Linked DNA regions of Homo sapiens: region 1 is linked to region 2. Evidence: fine-mapped expression QTL. A gene starts in region 2. The other region holds a variant in brackets. All regions are shown on one strand. Distances are from middle to middle. Region 1 overlaps AP3B1 (adaptor related protein complex 3 subunit beta 1). Region 2 holds the start of AP3B1 (adaptor related protein complex 3 subunit beta 1).

The links.
Region 1: its variant is fine-mapped to the expression of AP3B1 in whole blood (TOPMed, PIP 0.96). The same link has a PIP of 0.9 or more in lung.

The regions. Positions count from the first base shown.
Region 1 is chr5:78,126,673-78,131,076 of GRCh38, reverse strand. It overlaps AP3B1 (adaptor related protein complex 3 subunit beta 1), which reads left to right. Exons shown (of 27, transcript NM_003664.5): 16 at 1,770-1,956; 17 at 2,917-3,047. Among named protein-coding and RNA genes, the nearest start is that of AP3B1, 170 kb to the left of the region's middle. The variant T/A (reference allele first, on the strand shown) is at 1,873.
Region 2 is chr5:78,292,184-78,296,587 of GRCh38, reverse strand. AP3B1 (adaptor related protein complex 3 subunit beta 1) reads left to right here and starts at 1,890. Exons shown (of 27, transcript NM_003664.5): 1 at 1,890-2,136. The coding sequence starts at 2,009. RefSeq lists enhancers at 630-679, 1,054-1,627.

The sequences.
Region 1 (4,404 bases), 170 kb after region 2:
AAATACATTTTAATAAAACTTATTTATAAGCTTATAATATAATACATTTTACAGTCAATAAAAATTTTTAAATTATATAATTTTAATTACTTTAAATGCCCTACCTAACTTTCAAAATTGTTAACATATTGAAAATGTTTAATTTCCTAAAAATTAATTTTGGGCTAAGAAATATAAGCCAAATGTATCATTCTGCTAGCTCAAAAAAATCATTGCAATTAAGAGACTCTTTCTTTATTTTAGTTGCAGATTTAAAATCTCAGCACTCAAATGGACTTTAGAGTTAACCAAGTTGTAAATTCTAACTCCACATTTGAGAAAACTAATGATTAAGTGGATTTCCCAGGTTTTTCCAGCAAATTAATTACATGGTTTAGTGTACCACATTTTCTTTTAAGTTGGTTTTGAATTGTATTCCTCATTTGGTGAATACTTTGCAAATTGTCTTAAAAAATGAATCATAGAAATTTTCTTACCTGTACTTGAACCAGCATGGTCTAGCAATTAGTGAATAGCAATTGTTGGTAACCAAATTCAGAATAGCTCTATTAACATTTTCACTTGTATTTTTTATAATTCTACTTTAATAAAACTGGGTTAATCCTTTTTAACTACTCTGCTACTGAAATAAGGTTGCTTTCTATCAAATCAATTATCTTAAGCAATTATTGTAAAAGAGTTTACCACACCATTTCTGTACTTTGACTTATTGTTCTAGAATTGTCTTTAGCTCTGCCTAACTTGATTGATTTTATTTTTTATCTGCTTCTAATGTGCATAAAATCTTCTAATCTAAAGTAAATGATTTAGTGTTTCTCGGTTTATTTTTCCCATATATTATGAATTCTATTTGGCTTATAGTTAAAATTGTACACATGTAGCCTTCTTGTTAAAACTATGCTTTTTCAATAAAATAACTGTAGTTTAAAATACAAACCTGTTTTGTTAACATTTCAATTTTGGTTTAATTATTAAAATTATTTCAATATATGTTAATGTAGTACATTCAAAAATTGACTTAGGAAGTCTTATTATGGTGTAAAAGCTACTATAATAAGTTGTTCCCTTACATAAATAAATAAATGACCAATATTACTAGAGGCTATAAGCAGCTTGGGGGAAAAATGGAAGAAGTCTTTTATCCTAGTTTTCAGAGGGCATCAGCAGCTTGCTTTTATGAAAAAGTAACAGCTAAATGCACTGCAAATAATTTGCAGTAATCCAGTTCAGTGATTCATGTGTCTGCTTTAATGGGTCATAATTCAGGGTAAAGTAACTGAGTGCAGTCAGAGTGCAGACACTGCTTATGCCAGGGACAGTATCTCTTCATAAAACACACCTCAGGAGAAGCAGTTTGCCAGCCCCCTAATACTTTCTGATGTTTTGATGTCCTGCATATTTTTCCGATTAAGTTTTGAGTGCCATGTTTTTAGTTGTATTTCCACATTCATTATTCTCACGTAGACCCCTTCAGCGGGTTTGCCATATATGATTATTTTTTTAATGATGCCTTTCTTTCCACTTCAGCAGTTTAATAATCTAGCACATGGCTGCTTCTCAATACTCAGCATTCACCTACCCAGTACAGAAGAGGACATGTGCTTTGGCTTCAAAATTCCATTTGCAGCATTAGAAATGTGTATTCCCTATGGAACAACATTTGTTTGACATAACCATTCATTTTTATTACCTCTTTAAATATGTTTATCCAGAGTTATCGATAATCATAAATAACTGTATTCTCATCTTGATCTGTTTTTTTCCAACAGACAAAATTGCTTACCCAGTACATATTAAATCTCGGCAAGTATGATCAAAACTACGACATCAGAGACCGTACAAGATTTATTAGGCAGCTTATTGTTCCGAATG[T/A]AAAGAGTGGAGCTTTAAGTAAATATGCCAAAAAAATATTCCTAGCACAAAAGCCTGCACCACTGCTTGAGTCTCCTTTTAAAGGTATTATCAGAATATAACTCCAAAATATATGTTATCTAAAAAATTATGACAAGATGTTGCCATTTCTAATGTGCTTAAAATTTATCTCTTAGGAAATATAAATGATTCGCATATATAAATATATAAGAACAGCATGCTTTCTACTCATTCATCTGCTCTCAAAAGCAAGTTTTATATTAAAGTTTATATTTTTGTAGACCTTATTTACTAAATAATTTTAAGCGTTCTGACTTTATTCTAACATTTAAACTGGGCAATAGATGAAAACTGTCTTATTCTTATAAATAATGACTTCATTTCTCTTTTAAATAGTTTTATAAGAAATATAATTCCTTTTAATAGTGAGTTATTAAGTAAATATTCTGTGTACACTAATATCAGTTTTTCTAGGAGGAATTATTTTATAAAAAGTATCCCTCTATATTTAAACTGGTTTTTCAAAGAGGGAAGTTGACTTACGTGTCCCAGCTTTTTAAAAGGAGTAATTAAGTATTTTACCACCTTACAAGTAGCCATTCCAGTTGGAATCAAATAGTTACATACCTTGGTTTTCATATTGTTTCTTATTTAATGTTCTTATTTTAAAGCGATAAAAAGCAATTCAGTTTTGTAGAAAAACTATTAAAATTCTGGATGTGTTTGTGCCAAGACATGTATATGGATTGTTTAACTGTGCTGTCATTCTTAATATTCACAGTAAAGTAATTTTTAGAGAAGCTACATTTCAGAGCAACACCTCTAAACACACTGACTGATTAGCTTTTTTATTGACCATTATGGGGGAGATTATTGTAATCTATGGACTGAAATCAGTTTTTTGACCTATGAAGAGCTTCCTAGTCTATATTTATTCCTTGACATTTGAGGTAATATGCCAATTACCTTGAGCTCTGATTATGATTGTTCTCTGTTATATACAGCTCATATTGTTTATTTTATATTTTTCCCTATTTTTAATAGATAGAGATCATTTCCAGCTTGGCACCTTATCTCATACTCTCAACATTAAAGCTACTGGGTACCTGGAATTATCTAATTGGCCAGAGGTGGCGCCCGACCCATCAGTTCGAAATGTAGAAGTAATAGAGTTGGTAAGTTGACCTTTCTGAAATTAATTTTGCCAAAGCAGTGGAAGACTCTAGGATAGCTATTGTTTTATATAAAAGCTTTTTTGGAGAGTTGAAAATTGAAAATTGTTCTAGTATTTCTAAATGTAATGTGTTAGATATACCTTGCCTTTATAGCAACTAAATATTATAGTATTCCTATGCCATTGTACATGTACTGTTCCTTTTCTTCAAGGAAATAGAGAACTGAATTCTCTGCATCAGTGCCACCCACATTTGTGCTATTGCATTTGTAGCCGCGTAGATTCAATTTCTAAGGTATTTAGTTTCATTGGATGAAGTTTTTTCTACTTTGTTTAGAGATTTGTAAGCTTCCTGACAATATCCTTCTGAATAATTTCTGCTGTTCTCTTTCAGAAAAACCACACAAAGTGTTCTAGATTTTTTGATGAACCATTTTTAAGTGAAGCCTGAACATAAATAGGGAGCATTGTGTACCAAAAATGTCCTTTGACAAGGTCACAAAGTGAATAATATGGTGCTTTCTCATCAAAAACAAATTTGCTATATAAATACTCTTTTTCTCAATCTTTAAAAAAAATGCTGGCCATTGAGATAAAAGAATTAACATTCTTTTCTAATATTATCTGTTTCTTTCTCATATATACAAGAAAAAGTGAGAGAGGCCTTCTAATTGTATTTAGCAATTATGCAAAATATATTTAATACTTTAAAATGTGGAGTTAACAAAAAAAGCAGTTAAGAATTGTATTCTGGATACTTTTCTGGTGGAAAAGATACATTGAATTAGGATTCAGATAACTGGGGTTCTTTACTAATTCCTGTGGGAAAGTGAGTTAACCTCCTTGCTCTCAATTTTTCTGTATACAGTGGAAGAAAACCTTTATTACTTTAATAAATAGAATTTCTATAATGATCATGGCCATGTAATTTGATTCCTCTGAGAAATTATTAAATGTTTCTCTTAACCACTCCAACTTATCCTGGCTTTGAAGCATGGCCGGAATTAATAATAGCACTATTTAGGAACCCCTGACAGTGTACGATGATAATGTTTTATAAAAACTATCTTGTTTAAACCTAATAATGATTGTAAGGGATGGTTATTGTTATTCCCACATTGCAGATGAGGAAGCCAAGTCTTAGATAACTTAAAGTAAATCGCCTAAGTTCACATGGCAAGTAAGTGATAGAACCATATTCCAACCCAGGTCTGAGTTCACTGTCCATGCTGTTACTGTATTTTATTATGTAATATGAGAAGAGGAACCTTGAGCTTGTTCACAAATCTGTATTATCCTTAGTACTTAGCACCATTATCTTTATGTTTTGACAAATGATCTGTACTTAGAGACAGCCA
Region 2 (4,404 bases):
ATTATCCACTGCTAAAAGTATGCTGGAAAAAAATTTAGGATATCTGGTAAAAGTGTACATGCTCTAAAACCAAGAAATTCTGTAATCAGGTATGTGTCCGAGATTTTCCAGGCTATGTGTATATCAATGTTCTCATTTTACAAATAAAGTAATCAAAGCCTAGCTCTTTTTACTATTAATATATATAAAACTACTTAGAACTTTTAATATATATTAAAAGTTAACTATTTTAACTTAAAAGTATTTATTTTAACTTAAAATAAATTTTTTTATATTAAAAGTTAACTACTTTAACTATTTATATATATAAAACTACTTAGAAGTTTTAATATATATAAAACTACTTATATCCTGGTATATATTAAGGATTATATAATAATATATAGTTATCTATGATCATCCTCATCCTCATCATCAATAGTCAGTTGTAGGTGAAATTCTATTAATTAATACTGACAAATAACACATTTTAGGTGCTCATCATTGGCTCTCCGGAGGAGTATTCTAACAGCTGAATTAAAAACCTGCCAATATTTGACCAGACGATCAAGTTTGGAGGACGTCCCTTCCTCTCCCACCCAGAGCCACGCTCTTGCGTGCTTCCACAGTGACAGTGTGACCTTTTGAAATTTGGAGATCATACTCTCATCCTTGAAAACGCCCCACCGCCTTCCCTGGGGCGGCCGGCCTCCAGGTTCGCGTTCTACCTGGTAGAATCCCTTGACAGTTTCAGTACCTGGCCGCCAGGGCTTTGGGTGTTAATGCCTTCCTTGGACGGGAGGCACTGGGGAGAAGAGAGGGAAGGCGCTGAAACCCACCTGAGAAGGCGGGCTGGGGGAAGGCACCCCGGGAAAGAGGTTTTCTCGGGTGCCAGCACCCGGAGAGAGCTACTCTGGGGCCAGGCAAGCATCCCGCCTAGGCTCCCTAGTGCATATTAGTGAGTAACACGACTGGCGCGCGAGGTGGTCCATTTTATTTTTGGTAGCTAGACGCCAATAGGACGCACCACTTCAGCTCCAAACGGGAACTGGTGGCCCCAAGATGTTTTCTTTTCTTTTTCATTTTTTTGAGACAGGGTCTCGCTCTGTCGCCCAGGCTGGAATGCAGTGGAGAGATCTCAACTCATCGCTACCCCCTCCTTCTGGGTTCGAGTGATCCTCCCACCTCAGCCTCAGTAGCTGGGACCACAGACACGCGCCACCACGCCGGCTAATTTTTATATTTTTTGCAGAGAAAGGGTCTCGCTATGTTGCCTAGGCTGGTCTCGAACTCCTGGCCTCAAGTGATCCACCCGCCTCGGCCTCCCAAAGTGCTGGAATTACTGGCGTGAGCCACCGCGCCCGGTCTGCCCCCAAGACTTTCATTGAAAAGATGGAATGGTCGCTTCTGTGCGGATCCTCCAAACCATCGTTGGGAGAGGCCTCCTTAAAGTCTAGGAGAAAAGTTGTTTGGGACCGATATGAAAGTAAGGCAAAGCCGGATGGAAGAGAGTAGCCGAAACAAGCAAGAAAAGGAAAAGCGATCGTGATGGGTTTAGGAAAGGTGATCTGGCGTGCTAAATGGCATTTCCGGAGAAATCTGAAAACTATTGCTTTACTGAAGTATAGCAAAGAGCTGTCCGGGCTCTGGAAACTCCTTAACGGATCAAAACGGATGCAATGGGTATCCTTCTCCAAAGACACACCTCAAACGGGCCGGGAGCCGGGCAGTTAGCCACCCGCTGCCTCCCCTTCCGCAGTCCGGCTCGCAGCCGCTCAGCTACCTCTAAAGCCCGGAGCAGGAAAGTCCGCGCAGGCCTGGATGGCCCGGGTGGTAATCTAGCAGGCCTGCACACTGCGCATGCGCAGGGGGTGGACTGCCAGGTCGGCTCAGGGAGCCGTGACGAGTCCGGAAGCGCCTGCGCGCGCTCCTCCGTACGAGAACTAGTTTTGTTCCGTGCCCTCTGGACTGGAACCTTTTGGAGAGAACCCCCGGCAGGACCAACCCCGCACCCGCCAGCACCGCGGCAATGTCCAGCAATAGTTTTCCTTACAATGAGCAGTCCGGAGGAGGGGAGGCGACGGAGCTGGGTCAGGAGGCGACCTCAACCATTTCCCCCTCGGGGGCCTTCGGCCTCTTTAGCAGCGATTTGAAGAAGTGAGGAGAAAGGTTTGGGTTGCGGGGATGGGAGGGAGGAGCTGCGGACTCGGAGGAGTGGGCGCCAGGGTGGGCTTCCTGGAGAGGAGCGGGGTCGCCCTGAGGTCTGAGCAGGGCAGGGCGGTAACGTGTCCCGCGGGTGGGTAGGTGGGGTTGGTTGGCGGTGGTGGGAGTTGTGGGAGTTTGGGGCGAATGTGTGTAGGGGTCTCTAGTAGTTTTCAAACTTTAGTGAAAAGGAAACCACTTGGTGAGCTTAGATCCCACCCCTGAAGACACTGATTGAATTGGACTTGGGCTGGGCTCAGGAGTCTGAATTTTGAGCATCGTCTTCTAGTTTATTTACCGTTCGCCGGATCAGACTTTAATACATTCCCTGATTAGGGTGAAAGGAGTGTTTTGGTGAAGGTGAGAGTGCGAGTGTTGCTTGTGGGAAGTTATTTTGTGACCCCGGAGTGTAGGAGCAGAGAGGTGGATTTAGGCTGTTTGAATGGACAAACTGGTTTACACCAGTATTAATGTTCTTGGATTATGTCCTTTGCACTACAGACAAAAACACCAATCCAAAATAAGCATATGAATAGAAAATATTTTAAAAGAGTGTTACTGTGAACAAATCCAAAACTTTTACAGATTAATAATGTGAATTTTAAAAACGAATGTTAAACAAGGTACACTTAGTTTTGTAAAAAGTATCACCGAGAAATGGAAAGAAATCCCAAGTTGTTTGTTTTGGGGGGTGGGTTGGTGGTAGTGGTTACATTTACCAGAATTATCATTTTTACATTTCTCTTATTTTAAATCTTTCATTACTAAGCAATAGGGTCACATAATAGTCTGTCACTAAATTCATGCTAAATTAAGGTAGAATAGCTGTGCTAGTAGCTTTGCAGATCTGTTAGAGGGTATAATTAAAATTTAAATTAAACGTTACTAACAATATTGGGTAGTCTAGAAAGTGCTACTACTTCAAATTGGGATTACATTTTGGCTGTATTGAGGATCAAAATCATATATATAGCATGTAAGATACAATCTTTTCCTTTTTCCCAAGGTTAGAAAAGTTTAAAAGTAAGGTAACTGATTTCATTTTTCATTATATGCATTTGATGATCCATTGTTCTAGAACAAGTACGGAGCTTGTTGCCTCTACTATTAGCAAAATGTTTAGACTGAATTAACCTGTATATCGGCATCAATCTGTTTCGCAAATTAATTTACTTTTATGGTTTGTGAACATCTACGATGTTTTCTCTTAGATTTTTGTCAGATTTGGGGCCAGGCACTGCGGCTCACGCCTGTAATCCCAGCACTTTGGGAGGGTGAGGTGGGCGGATCGCTTGAGGCCAGGAGTTCGAGACCAGCCTGGCCAACATGGTGAAACCCCGTCTCTACTAAAAATACAAAAATTAGCCGGGCGTGGTGGCTCGTGCCTGTAATCCCAGCTACTCGGGAGGCTGAGGCAGGAGAATCGCTTGAACCCGGGAGGCGGAAGCTGCAGTGAGCCGAGATCGCGCCACAGCACTCAAACGTGGGCGACAGAGTGAGACTCCGTCTCAAAAAAAGAAAAAAAAGAAAAAGATTTTTGTCAAATTTGGACCTGATTTGGAAAAAAAAAACAAAAAAAACTTACGGCTTTGACTCTGTGACCAGTGCTCTTGAGGTGACCTAACAGGTTGGATTTAAAATAAAAGTAGCTAATTGATTAGAGGTGATATGTAATATATGCAAATAACCATGGTTGAATTGTGTTCCCCGAAAGATATTTATTGAGTATTTGTGCACACCACTTTACATTTATTATCTCATTCAGTTTTCCTAAACAACCCTGCAGGTTATTACCAGGTACTTCTCTGCTCCCACTTTACACGTGAGGAAATTGGAGCAAGGTTGTTAACTTGGAAAAGGCCACAAAGGTAGAACATTGCACTGCCTGAATTTGAACTCAGGGGCTCTAATATTAGAGCCCATTCTCTCAAAAGTTTAGATGTGCTACTTACTACTTGATGAAATGTATGGTATTTTTATTAGTGAGTGCATACAACTCACAAAAAGTTTAAAACTTTAAATAGTAGCTCCAAGTAGTACCACCAGAGAAGCTTCCAGGGATTAGAAACATTTGGCTATTGACCTGCAGTCTAATGGAATTGTACAGAAACAAGGAGACCCCTGTTCTGGAAGTGGTCATTAAATCTCTCTTGAGTCCACATTTTCTCATTTATAAAACCGTAATATTACTTGCCTTTTAAAAAATCGAATGACAAAGTTTAT